Homo sapiens: one gene and its partners. The protein of the gene in region 3 purifies or fractionates together with the protein of the main gene of each other region. This does not show direct contact. Each region holds a gene or a part of one and is shown on either strand. Other genes may lie near its edges.

What was found.
Region 1: the proteins of SCARA5 (region 3) and HS3ST2 purify together in Homo sapiens (affinity purification with mass spectrometry; 2 studies listed by BioGRID and IntAct, with this or other methods). This does not show direct contact.
Region 2: the proteins of SCARA5 (region 3) and COLGALT2 purify together in Homo sapiens (affinity purification with mass spectrometry; 2 studies listed by BioGRID and IntAct, with this or other methods). This does not show direct contact.

What each region holds. Positions count from the first base shown.
Region 1 is NC_000016.10:22,808,870-22,817,461, reverse strand, and holds the start of HS3ST2 (heparan sulfate glucosamine 3-O-sulfotransferase 2), read right to left. Parts: upstream 3,301-8,592; 5' UTR 2,852-3,300; coding exon 2,367-2,851; intron 770-2,366; coding exon of another isoform or gene 640-769; exon of another isoform or gene 1-639. UniProt on the Homo sapiens protein: Sulfotransferase that utilizes 3'-phospho-5'-adenylyl sulfate (PAPS) to catalyze the transfer of a sulfo group to an N-unsubstituted glucosamine linked to a 2-O-sulfo iduronic acid unit on heparan sulfate.
Region 2 is NC_000001.11:183,943,396-183,951,353, forward strand, and holds part of COLGALT2 (procollagen galactosyltransferase 2), read right to left. Parts: intron 7,719-7,958; coding exon 7,612-7,718; intron 2,170-7,611; coding exon 2,037-2,169; intron 929-2,036; coding exon 801-928; intron 1-800. UniProt on the Homo sapiens protein: Beta-galactosyltransferase that transfers beta-galactose to hydroxylysine residues of collagen.
Region 3 is NC_000008.11:27,919,243-27,927,200, forward strand, and holds part of SCARA5 (scavenger receptor class A member 5), read right to left. Parts: intron 3,004-7,958; coding exon 2,329-3,003; intron 1-2,328. UniProt on the Homo sapiens protein: Ferritin receptor that mediates non-transferrin-dependent delivery of iron. Mediates cellular uptake of ferritin-bound iron by stimulating ferritin endocytosis from the cell surface with consequent iron delivery within the cell.

The DNA of each region.
Region 1 (8,592 bases), on a different chromosome or scaffold from region 3:
TTATGGAAACAGCATCTAAGTGGGGTAGTATTACCCTGCACAGAAATGGCAATCCACAAGCTAAACACTTGACTCTAGGGGTGTGGATTTGTAACTGAAAGAAGCACAAACCACACAGCCTTTTCCTGACACTGGAGCCTCCCAGCCTTCCTGGTCAAGCAATGGGGAGAGGGCAATTACGACCAGACCTCTAGGATAGTCTTTTAGAAATATAAAGTGGGGAAAGGTGGTAGAGGGGGAGAGAAGAGAGAAGCAGAGCTGTCAGCATGCTTGATGTTAAATAAAACCTACCAAGACTCAGCTGAGAATTTTAGCAGAATCCAAATGTGCTAAAAAAAAATAAATAAATAAAAAATAAGACATGGCTTCCCTCTCTAAGGTTCACAGCTAAGCTTGCTTAGAATCACACATGCCAAGGTTAAAAATAAAAAGCAGCCATCCCTGAATGACATGGGCTCCAGGATGGAAGCCTGAGGTATGCTGTTTAGTGGTGGAAGGAAGAGAGGGGAGGGAGGAGAGTCTGGGTTCAGGGCATAGGTATTTATTGGAGGGCACACTATCTGAAAGCCAGATGCTCAGAATTTTGCTGTTTTGCACTTAAAAGGCACTTCGCATTGGCAAAAGGTGTCATAATGATCTTCAGATTTTCCATCGAGGAAATGCTGGCCTGCATTCGAATGTGGTCATGGCTGACCCACTCTGGGCTCTGCTGTTCAATGTGTTTGCCTCCTCCATCCCGGGATCTGACTCAGACAGTGTCCACATGCACCTAGACGGGATGCCCATGAGTCACAGCTTGGAAAGCACAGTGGGCTATTGGCATTGGCATGAAGCCAGATCTGCCACTCTGTGCCACCCTACCCTATTAACCAGACATAATGGTGCTGGGGCCACCCACAGGCTAGCTAGCCCCTGGTTGGCTGCAATGGGGACAGACTATGTGTCTGCCTGCTAAGGATGATGCATGACCCACTCGTCCCCACAACTACAACCATTGCGAGCCAGGAGTAACCTGCAAAGGTGCTAAATCAGGCCTGCGGTCCCCCTACTTTTGGTAAATCCAGGGCCCTCTATTATAAGCCCAGTGGGGTCCTCTTTCTAACAAAGTTGTCCCTTGTCCAATATGCATATGACCTCTACTGCCTAAAGCTGTAGATAAAAACAGCAGATTTAGCCTCAGCTACTCTGTCAGCTACCATGTTACCCCTCCCCAACGTCATTACTATGCAGATGTTTCTAGAAAGTCTTCAAAGGGTCAGGTGAATTGTGAGAATTCTGTGACCTATGTGTTAACAGGGAGCCGGGACATTACACCACCCACATGTGGGCCAGTCCTACACTTCAGCACCATACAGGGCTAGGGAGGCAGAAAGGCATTGAGGCGTGGACGCTGCCACCTCACAGAAGCTTTGGTCTGTGCCTTGACTCCCCCAGTGGGGATAATTCTCCTCCCTGGCATGCATGGGAAGCATAGACAGTCTATGCATGACTGGCTGCCCCTAGCACCCTTGCTAGCCTTCACCCGCAGGGCCCACCTTCAAATTCCACATTTTGGCTGCTGGTTTAGAAGCATCACTTAAAGTGAAGTGCCTTTTTTACACCTTTAAGGCACTTCAGAAAAGCCTTGGAAGGTATACAGGGCAAGGGCTGTTTTCCTGCCCATTGGGATGGATGAGAAAATAGAGGCTGATAGAGTTTAAGAAACTTGCTCAAGCTTAAGTGACAGACCCAAGACTCGAATCCAGGGCTCTTTCCACTACTCAAAGACCACCTACCAGGGCCAGAGCTACTGGGGGTCTCAGCCCCAGTACAGCAGCAAATACCTGGGTTTGAGATTGAGACTCCCTAAGGCATCTTTCTTACTGGAGACCTCTGGCGATGCACTGTCATTTGGCCTGAACTCTGGGGACCTTTCCCAAACAGAGCCTTGCTGCAAGGGGTCTCTGAACTGCCTTATCTTTCTCAGGGTCCTTCAGGGGCTGGGTACCAGCAAAGACCTACAGAGGGTTAGGATGGTGCCGTGTTCAGGCAGCACAGGTCCTCGCCTGTCCCTTCCTTGGGCACCCTAAGGGCTGGTCACAGAGGGAGTTAGCCCTTTAGCTGGCACTTAGGTTTGACTGGAGATAATCCTTTTCCAACGACTCCAGTGACGAGGGAACGCCCTTTGCAGTTCCAGAAACTGCCCGTCTAGATTATCACTGGGAAGTTCTGGGTAAATTCTGCTATAGCCCCCCATGGCCCTGTGTGTCAGCCTGAACCCATACAATGAGTTGGGTTAAAAGAAAGAGAAAACACAAGAGACGGATGGCTCTCCCAATGGAAGCGATCAGAGACCCGGCGCACGGAGCGGAGCTCCTGGTCCTTACCTGTACCAATCCAGCCCGCGGCCGTAGTTCCTGTCAAAGAAGTGGGGTTCCGTGCCCAAGGCCCGCACGTCCGGGTGTACTCGGATAAACTCCAGCACGGCCCGGGTGCCCCCCTTCTTCACGCCCACAATGAGGGCTTGGGGCAACCGCTTGGTACCCAGCTTGGGTGAGCCGGAGTGGTTGGAACCGGAGAGGCGAGGGGCGGGCACGGCGGCGGCGGGCGCGCTGGGAGCGCTGGGCTCGCTGGGCGTCGGCCCGGAGGGATCACAGGGGCGGGACTTCTGGAGAAGTTTCTGGCCGCCCGCGCTGGGGCCGCGGAGGCAGCGAGGCGCGCCGAGGAGGCGGCTCCGACCCAGGTCGTCGCAGCAGCACAGGAAGCTGTAACACAGGTAAGTGCAGGAGAGCGAGAGCGTGAAGGCGAAGAGCAGCCTGCGCGCCCTCCGCGGCTGAGGTGGCCCCGCGCGGCCCAGGACCCTATAGGCCATGGCTCCATGGGCCCGCGCCGGGGGTCATGGTTTCCGAGGGGGCACCGGCGGCTGAGCTGCTGTGGCCCTGCGGTCGCCTAGAGGGCTCGCGTGGCGCTGCCACGGCCACGCGGGTCGGGCGTTGGGGGCGCCGTCTTCTCCGGGGGCTGCTGACCAGGGTGCGCACAGTGCCAGGGGGTCCCGGGGGCAGCGGCTCCTCGGGGAACAGGCGGTTGCATTTCCAGCATCTCCCGGTCCTAGGCGATGGGGCTCCGGGCAGCCGGGCGGCTCGGGCGCTCCCAGGCTCTTACGTGCGCCGGGTTCGGAGCGCGCCCAGCGCCCGAAGCCCCATTCCTGATCCTCGGAGCGCCGCTCACGAAACGCTCGGCGGCGGCGCGGCTGTGCGGGCTGGCGGGTGGACCGGACGGTGGCGCTGGCGCCGGCCGCGATCTGGCTCTTCGGGAAATGCCGAGCGGAGCGCGCTGCCGGCTCTATTTAAGGAGTGGCCTGACGTCAGCCGCGCGGGTCCCCCGAGCCCGCGCCGCGCCCAGGGACCTGGCCCGCCCCCTGCGCCCCCACTCTCTTACCCCTCCCAGAAACACAGCACGCGGGCCCTCCCCATGCAGGCCACTCCCTACGGAGCCCCAGGCCAGCTTTGGGGCGGTGAAACGAAGGTGTCAAGGCATAGTACTCCTCCGGGAGGCTGGACACCCCCACCACGCTGGCCTCTCGACATCCAGGGACACGAATCCAGGTCGAGATCGCGCCGACATGCAGACCAGACAGACCCAGACGCAGACGCAGGCACCCTGCCCTGATGCGCGGTCCCACCACCCTGACCCGCACACGCACGCACAGGCACAGAAGCACACGCGCCCTAGCCCGGACACACCCCCACACCCACGCGGGGGTGGGGAGGAGAAGTCCCCTAACCTGGGCCCAGATACACCGACAAGGACACTCCCCCCGCTCTCGACATCTCGCCAAATGGACACACACAGCCCGGAATCGGACACCGAGCGCACGCACGCCCTGGACTGGGACACGCGCTGTAGACGGGATGGGTGGAGGAGCCGAGCGTGAGTGAGATTCCGTGACTATTCACCCAGCTTCTTAGCCCCCAGCGCGCTGACTCACACCCCGGCGGCTCGCTCTGTCTCGCACCTATGAGGCACGCGCGCACCCCAACCCATTGTCACCCCACCTCTCCCCGGGCCTGCCGGAGAGCGAGCCCCGGAGCGGCAGACTCCGCGTCAGGAGGGTTCCTCTCTTAGCAGCCGCCGCCTAGCGGTAGACTGCTCCCCGGGGAGCTGTCCAGGGTACCAGAGGGTCGCCGAGGGCTGAGTGAGGAGGGCTTCTTCACACAGAGACACTAGGAGGAGGAAACAGAGTACAAGGAGAACGTATCCAGGAGCAATTCCACTTCGAATGATTCCTAAGTGAATGCCTACAGGACAGTTCTCGGTGACCATGTCCAGAACAGGCATAAGTGACGATCCCCAGTACTTCCCTGAGGGACCACACTGGTACCTTGGATCAGAACCCTGCATCAGAACAGGCCTAAATGGCCATGGCTAAGAACACGGCTGAGTTGTCCTTCAACAGCAATGCCAATGCCAATTCACCATGTCCGAGTGTTCACAAGGTGAGTGCCCTCCACCACCACCCAGCCATAGAATGTCTAGATGACCACCATGACCCCCACCCTGATCAGGGTATAACTGACTTCCTTCCTCAGGCTGTAAACTGATCATTAGGTTCTGTGGATCTTAGCCCAAACCAGAAAATATTTTGTCCCCAAACTAGTCCCATCCCTAGAAACCTTAAACCAATTCTACGGCAGATAATAATAATAGCTGCCAACTTTGTATCAAGCACCTGGCATGGGTTAACTGATTAAATATTCACAACCTATGAAGTTGTTACCATTACCCTGGCATCACTTTGCTGTCTTAATTCTAATAGTAGCTAGCATTTATTGAGTGCTTGTTTTATGGGAGTTATGCGCTAATCACTTGACATGCACTACCTCATTTATCTTTGGAGATAGGTATTATTGTAATTTCTAATCTACAGGCAGTGATAAGAAGATTTAACAAACATATACACAGTAACTGGCAGAGCTGGGATTAAACCCGGGCAGTCTTGACTCCAAGATTCAAGCTCTTAGTTACAGCACTTTGCAGCTTCCTAACTTCCTTTGACCATTATTCATATAATTCCATCCTAGGCTCCTCTCCTGGATGTAAGCTAATTTGTCTATGTCTCTTCTAAAATCTCACACCTGGGACTGCGCGAGGAATTTCAGATATGGATTGAAAAGTTCAACAGGACTCTCACCTCTCTTTTGTAAGTTCTATTTCTAGTAATGCCACCTAAGACTCCATTATCTTTTTCTTGTGGCTATATCACACTGCTGACATCTCAAACTTGCAGCCAAGTAACATCTCTAAATGTTTCTTACAAGTGCTGCTGATTAAGGCACAGCTACCCCATACTGTGCTTGTACAGTGGGCCTTTTTGGACCCAATGTGTAGGTCCTTATAGATTTGACTTGATTGCATTTCATCTTGTCTCATCAGTTCGCTGCCCTAGTTTTTTTTAAATGTCTATTTGAAGTCAAACCACGAGGTAGCTTTCATTTATTCAAAAAGAAAAAGTAGAAAGATTGTATCCCAGCTTTACCCTTTATTCCAGGTGTACTTTGGGCAAGTGGACCCCCTTTAAGCCTCAGGTTCCTCAGCTGTAAAATGGGACGCTATGATTCACCTTAAAAGTCTCTCAAAGTTTAGATGTTGCATGATTCTATGATTCCATTACCCAAAGCATGAACCACTCACTTGGCATCATGTAATTTCCACAGTTGATCACAATTTAATTAATTCCTCATTCTAATTGTTAATAAAAATGTCAAAACAAATATACTTAAAGGAGTTCTTCTTCTTCTTTTGGGTGAGGGGAAGTGTCTCACTCTGTTGACCATGCTGGCATGCAGTAGTGCAATCATAGCTCATGCTGCAGCCTCCACTTCCTGGGCTCAAGGGATCCTCCTGCCTCAGCCTCCTGAGTAGCTAGGACTACAGGCATGTGCCACCACACCTAGCTAGTTTTTTAATTTTTTGTAGAGATGAAGTCTTACTGTGTTGCCCAAGCTGGTCTTGAACTCCTGAGCTCAAGTGATCCTCCTGCCTCAGCTTCCCAAAGTGCTAGAATTACAGACATGAGCCACAATGCCTGGCCTGGAAGGAGCTCTTATATATACTTTGAACAATTATTCACATCATGAACCTGCTATTTTTGTATTCCATTGTTAAAATTACAAGGTTAAATGTGGAGTCATCTGCTGTGATCAGTACTATTTCCCTTAGAAAATAAAACATGAATATAATGATTTCTCATAATTCTGTGCTTGGCTTAATTTTTAAATAATTTTTAACCTTTGAATTCATAAACTGTGATATCCCTGGGTACTCACATATATCAAAACCAGGAAGATTTTCCTCTTCAAATTTCCAATCAGAGTAATGACTGACTTGGATAGAATTTTTTAGGAAGTGAGACATTGGACATACCTGCCCATCTCCTAAACCTTTATCTGTTTACAGTAGCAAACGTGATTCTGCTTTGGGGGTATCAGGTAGGATTATGCTGGGTTGTGTAGTTTGTCAATTAACACCCACTTAAGCAAGGTATATGTTTATTTTTGTAATCACATGAAAGTCCAGATGAAGGTACTTTAGGGCTTGTATGGAAGCTCCAAAGTGTTTGGGACCCAGGCTCCCTCTATCTTGTTACTCTACCATGCATTTCCTCCATTCTAAAGTCACCACATAGTCTACAATGACTTATTCATCTGCAGCCAGAATGTTCACATTCTGGTCATTAGTAAATATGTAAAGACATGCCATATCTGTTTAAGGACATTTCTTGGAAGTTGCCTGTATTATTTCAACTCGTATTCAATTTGACAGCATTTTATCATTTGACTTTCTAGCTTCAAGAGATGCTTCAAAATGCAGTCTTGATTCTGGATGGCTGTATGCCTGGCTAACACTTTGAGATTTTGGTATCAAGAAAGAACTAAAGAATGGTTATGGAGGACAACTAGTAATCCTTGCCATCCTTGGACAAACAGTTTTCCCTCTTTTATTCCCATGTGGTTTGTATGGGTTGAACATAGTTCAAAGACAGGCATATGACCAAGCCTGACATCATCACTTTCTAATTATATTTCAAGAACTGAAAGTAACTCAAATCTTTCTAGTGAGAATAAACCACACAACATTTGTGAAAACTATTGGAAAAGAGAAACTTCTTTTTCTGAGATGATGAATTAATCTAAAATAAGCCTGAAGCTTCCAATGGTCATCTCTGCTATCAAGAGGAGAAACCAACAATAAAGCCAACAAAGAGGAGAGCAGAACTGATGGAGGGAGAATTAGATTCCTGATAATATCCTTTGAACCTCTGAATCTAGCCATGCGGAATGCATGGACCCTGGACTTTATTGCTGCAGTGATTAGCTATCTTTCTGTTAGCACTTGCAACTGAAAGAGTGCTGACCAATACAACAAACAAACAAAAAGAGTTGCTCCCTCCGTTGCAAGGAATAGATACCATTTTAATAAAAAGTGTTGGAGGTGGGGGGGCTTATTTTGAAGGATATGCATGTATCAGGACTGCAACCCTTCCAAATTTGAGACAGTCATAGGATCCAGTTACTTTCTTCAACTTCTCTACTTTTCTTGTATCTTATTTATTTTGCTTCTCATTCTTAACTGCCATTGCTCTTTATTTATGAAACAGTAAGGGTTACTAGAAGTGAAAAAAAGAGATTTGGGATATCTTACACAGGAAAGGAACTTTGGGGTAGCTCACAAAATTAAGAAGAAGGCTGGAGAACTGGGCTCAAATAGAATAGCAACCAAAGAGCACATTACACTCTCTTTCTTTTCTTTTTCTGAGTCCATTTCTCTTTCACATTAGCATTCTCTTGAATCTTCCTTCCCACTCTAATGCCCTGCATTCAAGACTTTGAATTTAAAATCATAAAATAGGAAATTTTCTTCCCCTTCAGTCTTTGGGCCTAATCAAGCCTTGTTATTCAGTTTTATTTCAGTGTGTAAGCTTCAAATCTGTTCCCTAAAGCAGAGTTTTGCAAAAATGTGAGAAAATGTCCCAAAGAGGGTGACTCCTATGAGGCAAAGGACAGTGAAGTGGAGCCACATGGTCTGCAGGGTCTGTGAGGTACAAAGTTTGCATCTGAATCAGAGGATGTGCATATATCTGCTACATTTAGGAAAGAGGTTGAGAGCGAGAATGAGAGATTTCAGTTGTGCTTCATTCTTTGGATAAAATCAGAGGGTAAAAGCTCAAGGGGCTTCCAGATACTGCCTGTAGAAATGATCCAAATCTAGAAGACCGGAGACCTGGTTGATTTTTAAGAACTCTATAAGATTCCAAACGCTTTGTTATTCTCCATGTAGGTGACTTCTGTTTTTGCCAGAAATAATAGGTACCATTTATTGAGCATTTACTCGCATCATGGACTGGTGCATTTAGATGCATTACTTAATTTAATAGTCTCAATAAACCAATAAAGTAGGCATTATTATTATTATCCCTATTTTATAAATAAGGAAAGTCTCAAGTAGGTTGAATTTTCCATGTTCTACAGATGTTACAGGCTGAGGGAGGGGGAAATTAGTTCAAAAAAAGCATTAATGTGGAGATCCAGGATCAGGTTTACTCATCTTATAATC
Region 2 (7,958 bases), on a different chromosome or scaffold from region 3:
TGGAGAGAAATTGAAAGTGTCATTTGTTTTAAAAAGAAAATGAGAGAGAGAAAGGAGGAGGCAGAGGAGGAAGAAGAAAAAGGAAAGAGGAAGGGAGAGAGGGAGAGGAAAAATGAAAGGGAAGGGAAGGAAAAATGAAAGGGAAGGGAAGAAAAAAGCAGAAGCCACTCAATTCCCAGAGAGTAGACAAAGAACATTAACTAAATGTCAGCTCAGAGCCAGCACTCCCTTGGTGAGCCTGGTTTTCCTGCATCAGCCTCAGACCCTTCCCCAAATCTAGTTGTCCATGTTCTTCATGTTTGTGCAGCCCCATTTCCCAACAGAGGAGCTCCCTGGCTGACCCTCTAACCTCCCACCTTCTCGGAAGCTGCAGAGGCAACCTGCTGTCCCGGGAGCTGAGTCTTAAATATGACACAGGACTTTAGAGCTTGAATAAATGGCCTCTTCTCCAGCTTCACACCCACTCCATGTGCCACGTTAATTGAGGGTGGGATTTCTGCTGTGCTCCTAAGTAAGTGCTCAGTGCCACACCTTGGTTCTGTCTGAAGGTCCCTGATCTGCAGGCCGACTCCAGGTCTCAGACAATCTTCCACAGTTTCCCACCCTGAAGAGTAGAAGGATGCAAAATCCAGTGGCTAACCTCTACCCATTTTTATTTCTGAGAACATTTATGGAAAGAAAACTAGATAAGTGGAAGCTTAAGCTGTATCTCCTACTGGCTGTGGAGGTGGGGCTCTCTGCGCATTGGAAAGGACTGAGTGCCTCTCAGAGCCCTCTCGTAAGATCATCTTGTCACTCACATCAGTTCCCAGTCCAGCTGAGCCTGGTCAATGTTATCCATCAGCTTCATCAGCTTCTTCTTAAACTGATGCTCAAAACGCACATCGTCTTCAATTACAAGAGTCTTCTCTAGCTCTCGATCAATTACCTGCAAAAGTCATCAGTAGGAAGATACCCTATGAAAAGTTTGAAACCCAATTTTTATTAGATAAATAAGTATTAAAAAGTCACGAGTCTAGTAGCACAGATTCATAACTGGAATCTAAGCAAATGGCCATCAACAGTAGAATAGATAATAAACTTTGGAATATTCACAGCAGTGAGGATATATGATCACAATTAAACGCAACGTTATAGGTGAATCTCCTAAATGTCATGTTAGGAGAGTACACATACTGCATGATTCCATTCATATAAGGGAAAGTACAAACAAAGGTAAAGCTATTCAATGCCTTTAGAAGTCAGGATGGTGACTGCCCTTGGGGACTGATGACCAGAAGGCAGTACGGGGTGGGGGGGTGCTTGTGGGATGCTGGTTACCTGCTTCTGGATCTGTGTACTGATTAACATGGGTGTGTTGTTTGGTTTGTGAAATTTCCCTGAGCTGTATCTTTTGATCTATATCTTTTTATACCTATTTATCACATTTCACTTAAAGTTTAAAGAAAACAAAGGCAGGCATAGACTGGATCATTAAAAGAGAAAGTGTTCAAGGGGCCTTTCTTCAGGGACTTTCTTTTTGGTTGTGGAAACTGACTGTTTATCAGGAACCCCACACACCAATATCTGCTCCAGATATGTCTTGATCTGTAAGACAGGGGTTCCACTTCTGGCTCTGCCACTTCTTACCGGGTCAAGCTACTTAATAATTTCTTCTTCGGTAAAGGTGGTCTGTCCTTCCCAACCCACCTCACATGACTTCTGTGTGATTTCTTGTATAAAATCACTTAATAAGTGATGTCATAATAGGTATAATAGAAGGCATTCCTGCTAATGATGATAATGAATTAATAAGAGTGTGGCACACAGGACATGGGTGTCTCCCCCGTCACCACCCCAAGTGGCACCAAAGCTACTCCTCCTTGCCCCTTTGTTGCTGGTCTTGGGTCAGAGGGAGACACAAGGCAGGAGCAGCTCTCATGCACATTTCCAGAACAGTTGCGGGCTCACTTTACATCTGGCCCTAACTCACCTACGATAGCCTGCTTTCCTTTCTCCTCATCATAAAACTGCAATCTGAATAAAGCATTATTTACCTCTTTCCAGACTGAGTAGTGGCTGAGAAAGCAGCCGATTTCACCCCTTGTTAGAGGCCTGGAGGAATAGGGATCTCGATAGCCAGGCAGCATTTCAATATTCAGTGCCTTCAGCTGGCTTGTGTTGAGTGCCCTGCATCACATAAAACACGTCTGGAGATTAACAAGTCAAAGGTCCCCACCACAAAGGCCAGAGAAAGAGAGAGTTAGTTCTGCAAACACCCCTCCCCCACACAGACAAAGACAGAGAGGCTTCCCTTTATTCCTTAGAAGTTCCTCCAGGCTAATGTGTCACACTAGTATTATGAGGTCTGGGAAGACAAGAGGGTATCATATTTTTGTGTATCCCTCATAGTGCCCAACATAGTTCTAAGCATCATCAGTTTTTTGACAAGATTTAATAAGTACACTCCTATGGAAATTAGTTAAAGTACTGCAATAATCCAAGGAGTGTTTGATCAAGACCTACTGCTGAATCTCTGTTAACACAGTGAGCTTTGTGAAGTTCACAGCTGCCCTAATCCTAACCTGTTCACCCCAGCCCTACAAAAGCCTTGAAAACCAGTAGCCTCACAACTAAGAGAGCGGCAAACCCCACCAACCCAGAAGCCACTGGCAGGGACAAAATGGACTGAGACTCCCTTAAAGACCTGCCCCCAGAAAATAATCTCTATTCAACCTGTCTAGTAGCTCCTTGAAAAGCTACATTCTCAGAGCTTGTCTTGATTTGACCTGACTCAGAGTTCATTTTCTGTGAACAGCACTATCTGCAGGTCATTTGTCAAAACCCATGAGCAACAACTGTTTAACATTACAGCTGTTTGAGAAGCATTATCAGCTGATGCTAACAAGAAGCCCACCAAAAAACTTAAAAGGAAAAACCAAGGAATAAGAGGTCCATAGGGAGTTTGATTTGCTCCAAAATATCCCTGAGAATCTAGAAGGCCCCAGGCATATTCAGGGCTGTCCACACGCCCAGGAAAAACTTGAGAAGTCCCTAGTCTCTCACCTCTGGCTGACCTTAAGGATCTGGAAAAAAATGTAGTGAAGGCAAATGAATAAAACACTGCAATGAAGGAAGAATTTGGCATAGTAAGTTTTAAAAATTAATACAACCATGTGGTATCTATAAGAGGCAGCCTTTAGATTAAAAGACAAAAATAGGTTGAAAGTAAAAGAATAGAAAAAGATATACCATATAATCAGCAATGACAAGAGAGCTGGCAGAGCTATGCTAATATTGGGCAAAATAAATCTCAGACAAAATTCATGCTAGAGCCAAGGAAGGACATTTTTTAATGATAAAAAGGTTAATCTGGGCCGGGAGTGGTGGCTCACGCCTGTAATCCCACGACTTTGGGAGGCCGAGGTGGGCAGATCAGAAGGTCTGGAGATCGAGACCATCCTGGCTAACACGGTGAAACCCCATCTCTACTAAAAATACAAAAAATTAGCCGGCCATGGTGGTGGGTGCCTGTAGTCCCAGCTACTTGGGAGGCTGAGGCAGGAGAATGGTGTGAATCTGGGAGCTGGAGCTTGCAGTGAGCCAAGATCGTGCCATTGCACTGCAGCCTGGGTGACAGGGCAAGACTCCATCTCAAAAAAAAAAGGTCAATCCATCAGGAAGGCATAACAATTATAAATACATATGCACCTAACAGAACCTCAGAACCATGAAACTGGAAGAATTGAAAGGAGAAACAGACAATTCAACAATAATAGGGGAAGACATCAATATCCCACCTGCAATAATAGAACTAGGCAGGAGGAAGACAAGGAAACAGAAGACTTGAATAATATCTTAAAATAATCAGACCTAGCAGACATCTATAGAACATTCCACCCAACAATAGCCAAATACACACTTTCAAGTGTGCATAGAACATTCTCTAAGAAATACCATTTTTTAGACCATAAAGACCATATAGGTCATAAATTAAGTGTCAGTATACTTAAAAGGATTGAAATCACACAAGGTATGTTCTCCAACCTCAATGGTTTGAAATTAAAAATCAATAACCAAAGGAAACTTGGGAAATTCAGAAATGTGGAATTAAACAATACACTCCTAACCAATGGGTCAAAGAAGAAATTGCAAGGGAAATTAGAAAATATTTTGAGATGAATGAAAACACAGCATACCAAAACTTATGCGATACACTTAACATAGTACTTGGAGATATAGTTACAGCTGCAAATGTCTCTAGTAAAATAGAATATCTCAAATAATAATCCTCCCATCCATCTTAAGAAACTAGATAAAGAGAAAATTAAACCCAAAGCAAACAGGAGGAAGAAAATAATAAAGGTTACAGTACAAATAAATGAACTAGAGAATAGAAAAACAATAGAGAAAAATCAACAAAACCAAAAGTCAGTCCTCTGAAAAGATCAACAAAATTGACAATTATTTGCCTAAACTGATGAATTAAAAAAAAGTAAACTCAAACTATTAAAGTCAAGAATGAAAGAGGGGTCACTCCTACTGACCTTATGAAAGTAAAAAAGATTATATGATAATACTATGAACAATTGTATGGCAACAAATTAGATAACCTAGATGAAATGGACAAATTGATAGGAAGGTACAAACTACCAAAATTGACTCAAGAAGAAATAGAAAGTAAATAAATAACAAGAAAAGAAGTTTAATTAGTAATAAAAAAAATTTCCATAAAGAAAAGCCTAGAACCAGATGGCTTCACTAGGGGTTTCTGCCAAATGTTTAAAAATTGTTAACACGAATCTTTCACAAACTTCCAAAAAAAAAGAGGAGGAGGGAACACATCCCAGCTGATTTTATGAAGCCAATATTATTTTGATACAAAACCAAAAACATTATAAGAAAACTGCAGACCAATATCACTTATTAATATAGATGTGGAAATCTTCAAGCAAATACTAGCAAGAGAATCCAGCAATTTATAAAAGGAATTATACAGCATGACCAAATGGGTCCCAGGATTATCCCAGGGTTGCAAGTTTGGTTTAACATGTGAAAACCAATCAAAGTAACGTACCATATTAACAGGCAAAAGTCACATGTTCATCTTAATAGACACGGACAAACCATTTGACAAAATCCAATACCCTTTTATGATAAAAATACTCAACAAAATAGGACTAAAAGGGACCTTCCTCAACCCAGTAAAGGCCATCTGTGAAAAACCCACAATTAACATCATACTTAGCAGTGACGGACTGAATGCTTTCCCTCTAAGATCAGGAACAAATCAAGAAACTGCACTCAACAGTTCTATTCAACATTGTACTTGATGATCCAGCAAGGGTAGTTGGACATGAAGAAGAAATAAATGGTATCCAGGTTTGAAAGGAACATATAACACTATCTCTACTTGCATGTGACATGGTCTTGTATGTAGAAGATCCTAAGGAATATACACACACAAAGGAAAAAGTACTATTAGAACTGATAAAAAGGGTTCAGCAAGGTTGCAGGATACAGGATCAATATACAAAAATCAATTGTATTCTTATTCATTTAGCAATGAACAATCTGAAAATAGAACTAAGGAAATAGTTCCATGTACCATAGCATCAAAAGAGTAAAATACTTAGGAGTATATTTAACAAAATAAATGCAAGACTTGTATACTGAAAATGACAAAACATCATTCAAAGAACTAAAGAAGATCTAAATAATAAAAAGACATTCCATGATTACGAATCAGAAGACTTCATATTGTTAACACGGAAATATTCTCCCAGTTGATCTACAGACTCAATGCAATTCCTATCAAAATCCCAGCTGCCGTTTTCTTTATTTGTGGAACTTGACAAGCTAATTCTAAAATTCATATGGAAAAAGTAAGGGACCCAGAATAGCTGAGACAAACTCGAAAAAGAATAACAAAATTGAAGGACTCATACTTCTTAAATACAAAGCTACAGTCATCAAGACGGTATAGTACTGGCATAAGGATAGACATATAGATCAATCAAATAAAATAGAGAGTTCAGAAATAAATCCTTACATTTATGGGCAACTGGCTTTTTACAATGGTGCCAAGACAATTCTACGAGGGAAACGAAAGTCTTTTTAACAAATGGTGAAGGGACAAATGGATAACCATGTGCAAAAGAATGAATATGGATCCCTGCCTCATGCCATATACAAAAATTTACTCAACATAGATCAAATACCTAAATGTAATAGATAAAACTGTAGAACTCTCAGAAGAAAATTTCATGAAGTAAATCTTCATGGCTTTGAAATTGACAATGGATTCTTAGGTATGACACTAAAATTACTAGCAACAAGAACAAAAAATAAATTGGATTTCATCAAAATGAAAAACTCTTTTGCTTCAATGTATACCATCATGAAATTGTGACAATCAATAATGCATAAAGTTAAAGAAAATATTTGACAATTACATATCTGATAAAGGACTTGCATCCAGGATATATAAAGAACTCTCACTACTCAACTAGTTTCCCTGGTCCATGTGGTCTATGAATGGGACTGGTGTTCTTGGAGGTATTTGAAGCAGTGGTTCCTAAACTCTACTGCACCCAAGAATAGGGCTGACAGATTTAGGAAGTGAAAAACACAAAACACTCAGTCAAATTTAAGTTTCAGATAAATAATGGATAATTTTTTAGTATAACCAAGCCCCATGTGATGTTTGGGACAAATTTAACTGGCTATCCAGTATTTTATGGGGCAATCCTGTCTAAGAATCACCTTGAGGCTTCTTAAATGCAGATCCTGGGTCCAGCCTCAGAGAGCATAATTCAGCAGGTCTGAGATGGGACTGAGGGAGCTGTCCCCTTAACCATCCGTGGGGACTCTGATGTGAGTGTCCAGGTCACACTTTGGGAAACACTGATGAGATTCTCTAAGGGAGTCATAAAAACTTCAACAGCTGCTAGCCATACTCCTTAGTTGGAGTTATGCAAATAGAAAACAAAGCTACTGATATTCTAAACCAACATATAACATGGAAAGGCACATTTTATAAAAATCTATGCCTTGAAATAGTTTAGGGTGTCAAATAAAAGGGCAAAGCTGAACAAAATAAAAAAAAAAAAAAAGAAGGGATCTAACTAGGTTCCCTGTGTTACTTTCCTGCCATATTTCCAGGAAAAGTGGCCACTATGATCGGTCCAGGCAGATTGTGGCAGGCATCTCATGCAACAGGAAATGTACACCTTTATGCATTTTCCATCTATTTTCTTCAGATTGACCAAGTTTCAGCACTTTATGCTCTAATTCAGCTCTGAACACAATTCTGAACACATTCCTTCTGTTACACTACAGAAGGCTGAAAACCACCACAACTGTTGCAAGAACCCCCAGAGACGGGACAATCACATCCAATGTGAGCCTTCAGTGTAATGAAGACCAAAGACCACTGGCTGGTGAGTGGATTTCAGGCCTGCTCTACAGGATGAAATTAACTTAAATGCTACTACAGGTGGCCGTTTTGAAAATAAGACTATCCTCTAATGACCGAAGAGACTTAGAGCCCCACCTGGGACTAACTCTCTGTCAGAGAAGACACATCCACACTCCAATCACATCTGCAATGGGAGAAGAAACCCAACTCACTTTCCATCCACAGCCTCGACAATCTTGACCTCAATCTCCTGTTCATACAGTGTGCGCAGCATCCGGTCCCGCCTGTCCTTTCTGCGTTTGAGGTTTATCATGAAAATCTAATGCAAGAAGGAAAAGGGAAAAGACACATAAATTACTCAAGTCTTCTTTTAGGCTGTTTGAAAAGTTTAGTAAATGTTTTAGATAGAAGAAGGAGTGGAAAAGATAGGAAGAACTGTCGTGAAAATTCATTTCTATCTCACATCAGTGTTTAAGGTAAATGATACTAATTCAAACTGAATTATTTTCAAAACTCAACTCTTCGTAGTGACTTAACTCTCTTTGTTTTTCTGATGTTC
Region 3 (7,958 bases):
AGGAGGAAGAGAAAGAGGAGAAGGAAGAGAAGAGGTGAAGGAGGAGGATGAGGAGGGCCCTGCAGGTGCAGGAGCCTCTGGAGCACAGCTGTCAGTGGGGAAGGTGAGCTGTGCTTCCAGGGCAGTGACGAGATGTGCCCCACTAGACTGGATGCATCACCCACAGCAAGACCATGTATGGCCCTTGAGTTAAACAATTAAATATCTCGAGAACATCACATGTTTCTGGTTTCGTTTGAAACAGAGGCAGACCTTGTCAACCTGGGTCCACCTTCCAGCCTGGCAAAAATGGGCTAGACCTGCCATAACCCTTAACACTCCCCTGACATTGCAGTCTCTACTCCTTGACATTGCTCACTGGCCTCTGCAGCAGTTCTCTCTGTGCCCCCTAGCATGAGAGGCAGTGGATGAGAAGGCAGGCAGGACAGGATAGGAAAGCAATGGGAAGCACACTAGCTCTGGGATCAGAAAGGCCAGCATGTAAATGCTGGTCCATCACCTCCTGGCCCTGCGGCTGTGGGCAAGCTATGGAAGCTTCCCAAATCTCAGTGTGCTTGTCAATAAAATAGGGAAAACATCACTCCCTTGGAGAGCCATTGTTTTCAAAAGATGCCCACATGAGATACAACTGGCACAGTAGGTAACACATACTAGATGCTCGCAATGGTATTATTTGTGCTGATGGCAGACTAAGGAATTTCTAACGAATCCAGTGGGCCATGGGGAGCCACAGTGGGCTTTGAGCAGGGGGATGACGTGGGAGAAGTGCATTTCATGAAAGGTGTTTCTGATGGTGAGTGCAGCAGGAAGGAATTGGGGGAGGGAAGGGGACCAGTTTGTCAGGAGTGAAGAAAGGGAGTTGGGTCTCTTGGTTCTATCATTTGTGGGCCCACAGCACGAGTACAATGGAGGCCCATACATTTTTGCATTTTTGCCATTATAGTTAAGATTACAAATGGACTGGCATTCCATAGTCCCAGCACTTTGGGAAACCAAGGTGGGAGGATCACTTGAGGCCAGAAGTTCAAGACCAGCCTAGGCAACATAGCAAGACCTTATCTCTAAAACAGTAATAATTTTTAAAAACTGGCCAGGTGTAGTGGCTCAAGCCTGTAATCCCAGTACTTTGGGAGGCTGAGGCAGGAGGATCACCTGAGGTCAGGAGTTCGAGACCAGCCTGGCCAACATGGTGAAACTCTGTCTTCTACTAAAAATACAAAAATTAGCCAGGAGTGGTGGCACACACCTGTAATCCTAGCTACTCAGAAGTCTGAGGCAGGAGAATCGCTTGAACCTGGGAGGTGGAGGTTGCAGTGAGGGAGATCATGCCACTGAACTCCAGCCTGAGCGACAGAGCGAGACTCCATCTCAAAAAAAAAAAAACCAAAACAAAACAAAACAAAAAAACAAACAAAAAAATGTAGTGGGGCATGGCAGTGTGCACCTGTAGTCCTAACTACTTGGAAGGCTAAGGCAGGAGGATCACTTAAGCCCAGGAGTTCAAGGCTGCCATGATCACATCACTGCCCCCCAGCCTGGGCAACAGAGCCAGACCCCAACTTGAAAACAGAAAACAAAACGACAACAACAAAAACAGTTACAGGGCGCCTGTAGTCCCAGCTACTTGGGAGGCTGAGGCAGGAGAATGGCGTGAACCCGGGAGGTGGAGCTTGCAGTGAGCTGAGATCAAGCCACTACACTCCAGCCTGGGCTACAGAGCGAGACTCCGTCTCAAAAAAACAGAAAACAAAAAAACAAAATACAAAACAAACAAACAAACAAAAAACAGTTACAAATGAAACCAGCTGATCGTTCAATGAAATACGTTCTTTTGCCTAAATGAGTAAGTCTTCCTAAGAGCCTAGAAGGCCAGGTTCAAGTTTGGAATTCTCTAACTCCAGATCTCCACCCTGGGAATGACACTAGAGGAGCCCCTCTCTACTCCCGGCCTGAGCCAGTTGTTCTGCCCCCAGCCTCAAGCTCTTGGAGGCTCCAGCACACCCACGCAAGCTGACCACCAGGCTCCCATTAGCCACAACTGGAGCAAACTCTCACATCTAGAAGAGTGGCCACTGAATCTGCTCTCTACCCGAGGGAGGTTTACCTGGGAAGAGACCTGTGCAAGCCCTGGATGTGGGTACATGCCATTTGGGCAGAAAATTCCAGAGTCCTGTAGGGCAAGACTTAGAGAGTATGGGGCTGGGAATGGCAAGTGCACTTGGGGATGGGGTGGGGCTGGGGTACTCCTGGGTCCTTGGGGAGGGGCGTGCAGGAGGAAGACCCCATCAGAAGGGGCCGTGGGTGGAGGCAGCAAGGGCCTGGCGGTACCTTTCGCGAGGGAGATGTTCCGCAGTGCGATGGAGTGCTCCCAGTCCTTGAGGCGCAGGTCCTCGGTGACCGCGTTGAGCATGGCCAGCTCCTGCTTCAGCTGCAGCTCCATGCCTACGTGCGCCAGGCGCAGGCGGCGCGTGTCCTCGCTGGCGTTGCTCACCAGCACCCGCAGGTCCTGCAGCCGCGTGCGGTGGAGGGCCACGTCGTAGGACAGGCTGTGGTTGAGGCCGCGCAGCACGCCGCCCACGTCGGCCAGCTCCTCGCCCAGGATGCCCACCCTGCGCGCCAGCCCGTCCAGCAGGCCCGCGTGGCGCCTCAGCAGCAGCTGGCTACTGTTGCTCTCCACCTGCAGCTGGTAGAGCTCCAGCTGCGCCGTGTCGCTCTGCTGGCCCGTGCGGTCCCGCAGCAGGGCCACCGCCTGCTCGGTCTGCACCGCCTGCGCCTGCAGCCCCCACAGCGCGCCCTCCAGCCGCTGCACTGCGCCCGCCAGCGCCAGCAACGAGTCTGACTGGTTCTGCAGCGCGTCCTGCACCTTCCACACCTGCTCCGTCAGGTCCGCTTGCAGCGGAGCCTGCAGCAGCCGCAGCTGCAAGTCCCGGAAGCTCTCATTCAGCCGGTTCACATTGCGAGTCAGGGCCTTCAGGTCGTCAGGGGAGCTGCGCGGCCTGGACACTGCGGAGGAGGAAGAGGGGAGACTTGAGCACCGCTGGGGAGGAAGGCCCCGGGTGACAAGAGGCGAACCCAGTCAGAGCCTGGCATGCAGTAGGTGCTCAATAAATGATAGACGAATAAAATCACAGGTGGTGTGCTGAGCGCTTTACTAGATCCCAGGTATTGTGCTAAACCAGTGGTCCCCAAACCTGCCTGCACATTAGATTACCTGGCTAGGTGTCTCACCTGCAGAAATTGTGATTGAATTGGTATGCGGTGTTACCTGGGCTTTGGAATTTTTAGAAGATCCAGAAGTAATTCTAAGGTGCAGACAAGTTTGTGAGCTGCTGTTCTAGTGTAACTATCATAGGTTAATTCAGTGGACCCCTAGGAAACTGCCAGTTGCGAATGTTGAAAAGCAGTTGCATATCAGCAGTTTCATGTAGGTCAGCTTAAGATGTTGGGTGGTGTTATCCTCTCAACTTTAGAGGGTGGGTACCTGCTGCAATCTGAATAAGCCCCCCAAAATTCGAATGTGGAAACTTAATCACCAAAGTCATAGTAAGGGGGGTCTTTAGGAGGTGATTGAGTCACGAGGGCAGAGCCCTCGCGTATTAGATTAGCAACTTTTTAAAAGAGGTTTGAGGGAGCTGTTTGCCCTTCTTGCCACCTGAGGACACATAGAAGGCACCATCCATGAGAAACAGGCCCTCACCAGACATGAATCTGCTGGCACCTTTATCTTGGACTTCCCAGCCTCCAGAACCATGAGCAATACATTTGTTGCTTATAAATTACCCAGTCTACAGTATTTTGTTATAGCAGCCTGAACAGACTAAGACAGTACCATTCTTATCCCCTTTCAGAGCTATTAGCATTGCCCAGGGTAAAAATTTACAGCAAGTAAACCTTAACTAAGAATGCTTGCTCCAGAGCCTGGGGGCTTCCCCTCAAGTCAGCTCCAGGACTGCCTAAAGGAAGAGCACCCCGGCAGCAGACTCAGCCAGGCTCAAGGCCACCGTGTCTATTTTCTGGCCTCCTGAGTTCGGGGCCCTTTCCCTTCTGCTCACGTGCTGTGCCAACAGCCTGTCTGGGTGTTCTCAGAGTGTTCTCACGACTTCTGATAAGCCACAGTGTCTCCTGGAGCTCCAGGGGCAACATGAGAAGAAACTGACGTGAAATTATCAAGCTTTCCATTCTCCAACAGCCCTGTCTCAATACTTGTCACCCAATCAGAGTCCATGATTGGACAGACACAATCCAATGAAGACTGCTTTTATATTGATATGCTCCTTCTCTGCATCTTCTACTTCTTTGTGTTGTTTGTTTGTTGTGTTTTCTGTTTTTGTTTTGTTTTGTTTTTTGAGACAGAGTCTCACTCTGTTGCTGTCGCCAGGTTGGAGTGCAGTGGTGCAATCTTGGCTCACTGCAACCTCTGCCTCCCAGGTTCAAGTGATTCTCCTGCCTCGGCCTCCCAAGTAGCTGGGACTACAGGTGCATGCCACCACTCCCAGCTAATTTTTGTATTTTAATAGAGATGGGGTTTCACCATGTTGGCCAGGATGGTCTCGATCTCTTGACCTCATGATCTGCCCGCCTTGGCCTCCCAAAGTGTTGGGATTACAGGTGTGAGCCACTGCACCCGGCCCTACTTCTTCTTCTAGATCCTCTATTTCCTCTTCAGCAAAAAACCCATCCCAGTGATCCCCCACCCCTTCCTCTTGGAGGGTTCCCTTTTCTTGGTTATAAGCAGCTATTGCATAATACTAAGAACAGTGATGTGTGTCTTCATCGTTAGAATCTAGCATCCTTGTATCTCCTGGGAGGTCGTGGACTGTTCTGACTCAGGTATGCTACAAATCCTGAGTGGGGATGTCTAGGGATGCTCATTGTCTGTTAGTTGTGTCCTGTCCACGGCTGTTCCCCACTCTGCTCTGCATACCACAGAAAGGGAAATAAGGCCTGGTGGTGGGATAGGTAGGAGGTGGGGGCAGATGAGGCACAGAACAAATTCCACCTTGAAAATCTTGGAGGTAACTGGGGAACTTGGTACACAGCTTGTTCAAACAATGAGAAAAATCAGATGGAATAAGTTCTCATCCAGAACTTCACATTGAGAAGGAGGGATATAGGTTGTGAGGGCTCTCTAGCCATGGAAAGATCAGCTGTTACAATCTTTCAGTGATGCTTCTGGAAGCACACGGCATTTGTGGTGGCCACCCTGGAGGAGATAAGTCATTCCAGCTTAGGCTCAGAGGCTCACAGGGCTGAAGGGGTCTTGGAGCCTTGCCTCGACTTCTCCCCCACCCAGCACTTTAATCTAAGAAGGTCACATTGCAAAAGGGTCCTGGCACCCCTGCTTACACCAGTCTCTCCATCTTCAGTTAGTGCTGACTGTCAGAATTTTCTGTATTCTGTTCAGACTTAGAATTTGCCTCCTTGTATTCAATTAGGAAAAGAGGAAGTCAAATTGTCCCTGTTTGCAGATGACATGATTGTATATTTAGAAAACCCCATCATCTCAGCCCAAAATCTCCTTAAGCTGATAAGCAACTTCAGCAAACTCTCAGGATACAAAATCAATGCGCAAAAATCACAAGCATTCCTATACACCAATAACAGACAAATAGAAAGCCAAATCATGAGTATACTCCCATTCACAATTGCTACAAAGAGAATAAAATACCTAGGAATCCAACTTACAAGGGATGTGAAGGACCTCTTCAAGGAGAACTGCAAACCACTGCTCAACAAAATAAAAGAGGACACAAACAAATGGAAGAACATTCCATGCTCGTGAATAGGAAGAATCAATATTGTGAAAATGGCCATACTGCCCAAGGTAATTTATAGATTCAATGCCATCCCCATCAAGCTACCAATGACTTTCTTCACACAACTGGAAAAAACTACTTTAAAGTTCACATGGAACCAAAAAAGAGCCCGTTTTGCCAAGACAATCCTAAGCAAAAAGAACAAAGCTGGAGGCATCATGCTACCTGACTTCAAACTACACTACAAGGCTACAGTAACCAAAACAGCATGGTACTGGTACCAAAACAGAGATATAGACCAATGGAACAGAGCAGACGCCTCAGAAATAACACCACACATCTACAATCATCTGATCTTTGACAAACCTGACAAAAACAAGAAATGGGGAAAGGATTTCCTATTTAATAAATGGTGCTGGGAAAACTGGCTAGCCATATGTAGAAGGCTGAAACGGGATCCCTTCCTTACACCTTATACAAAAATTAATTCAAGACAGATTAAAGACTTAAATGTTACCTAAAACCATAAAAACCCTAGAAGAAAACCTAGGCAATACCATTCAGGACATAGGCATGGGCAAGGACTTCATGACTAAAACACCAAAAGCAATGGCAACAAAAGCCAAAATAGACAAATGGGATCTGCTCAGGGTGAGCACGCAACCTACAGAATGGGAGAACATTTTTGCAATCTACTCATCTGACAAAGGGCTAATATCCAGAATCTACAAAGAACTCAAACAAATTTATAAGAAAAAAAACAAACCACCCCATCAAAAAGTGGGCAAAGGATATGAACAGACACTTCTCAAAAGAAGACATCTATGCAGCCAACAGACAGGTGAAAAAATGCTCATCATCACTGGCCATCAGAGAAATGCAAATGAGAACCACAATGAGATATGATCTCATGCCAGTTAGAATGGCAATCATTAAAAAGTCAGGAAACAACAGATGCTGGAGAGGATGTGGAGAAATAAGAATGCTTTTACACTGTTGGTGGGAGTGTAAATTAGTTCAACCATCGTGGAAGACAGTGTGGCTATCCCTCAAGGATCTAGAACTAGAAATACCATTTGACCCAGCAGTGCCATTACTGGGTATACACCCAAAGATTATAAATCATGCTACTATAAAGAACATGCACATGTATGTTTATTGCAGCACCACTCACAATAGCAAAGACTTGGAACCAAGCCAAATGTCCATCAATGATAGACTGGATTAAGAAAATGTGGCACATATACACCATGGAATACTATGCAGCCATAAAAAAGGATGAGTTCATGTCCTTTGCAGGGACATGGATAAAGCTGGAAACCATCATTCTCAGCAAACTATCACAAGGACAGAAAACCAAACACTGCATGTTCTCACTCATAGGTGGGAATTGAACAAGGAGATCACTTGGACACAGTGCAGGGAACATCACACACCGGGGCCTGTCAGGGGGTGGGGGACTGGGGGAGGGATAGCATTAGGAGATATACCTAATGTAAATGATGAGTTGATGTGTGCAGCAAACCAACATGGCACATGTTGTATCAAACCTGCACGTTGTGCACATGTACCCTAGAACTTCAAGTATAATAAAAAATTAATAAATAAAATAAATTAATAGAAGATGCTCTCAGAGGATCACAAACACTGCCGTATAATCTAGACCTTAACTATTTCCTATGGGATTTATTTAGTGCAGTTTGATCTCAAGTGTGAGATGGTGAGAATCCTGAGAGGTTTCTTTCAGGTAAGAAAACCTGAGAGGTAAGAATCTGAGAGGTTCTGAGAGGTTTGTGCCAGATATGCATTTAGATCTCTTGGGATGTAGGCTGGAGCTGGCCACGTATTGAGACAGGGCTGTTGGAGAATAAAAAGCCTGATAATTTCATGTCAGTCTCTTCTCATGATGTCCCTGGAGCTCCAAGAGGCACCACAGCTTATCAGAAGTTGTGAGAACAGTTCCAGTTTTGGTTCTCAAACTGGGATCTTGAGTTCTGGTTTTCAAACTGGGACCTTGAGTGACTAAGAGTAACAGGGCAACCTCCCAGACTGAAGCCCCAGGGCCGATTCAAGGACACATCTGCCGAGGGCCAAGACCCTGAAGTGGACAATTTTCTTCCTTACCTCTGTCTTCCCCAGCTCTCCTAGCCCCTCCTTCCCTCTGTGGGGGTCCCTAAGCCCAGCTAGTCCTCTGCACCCTGG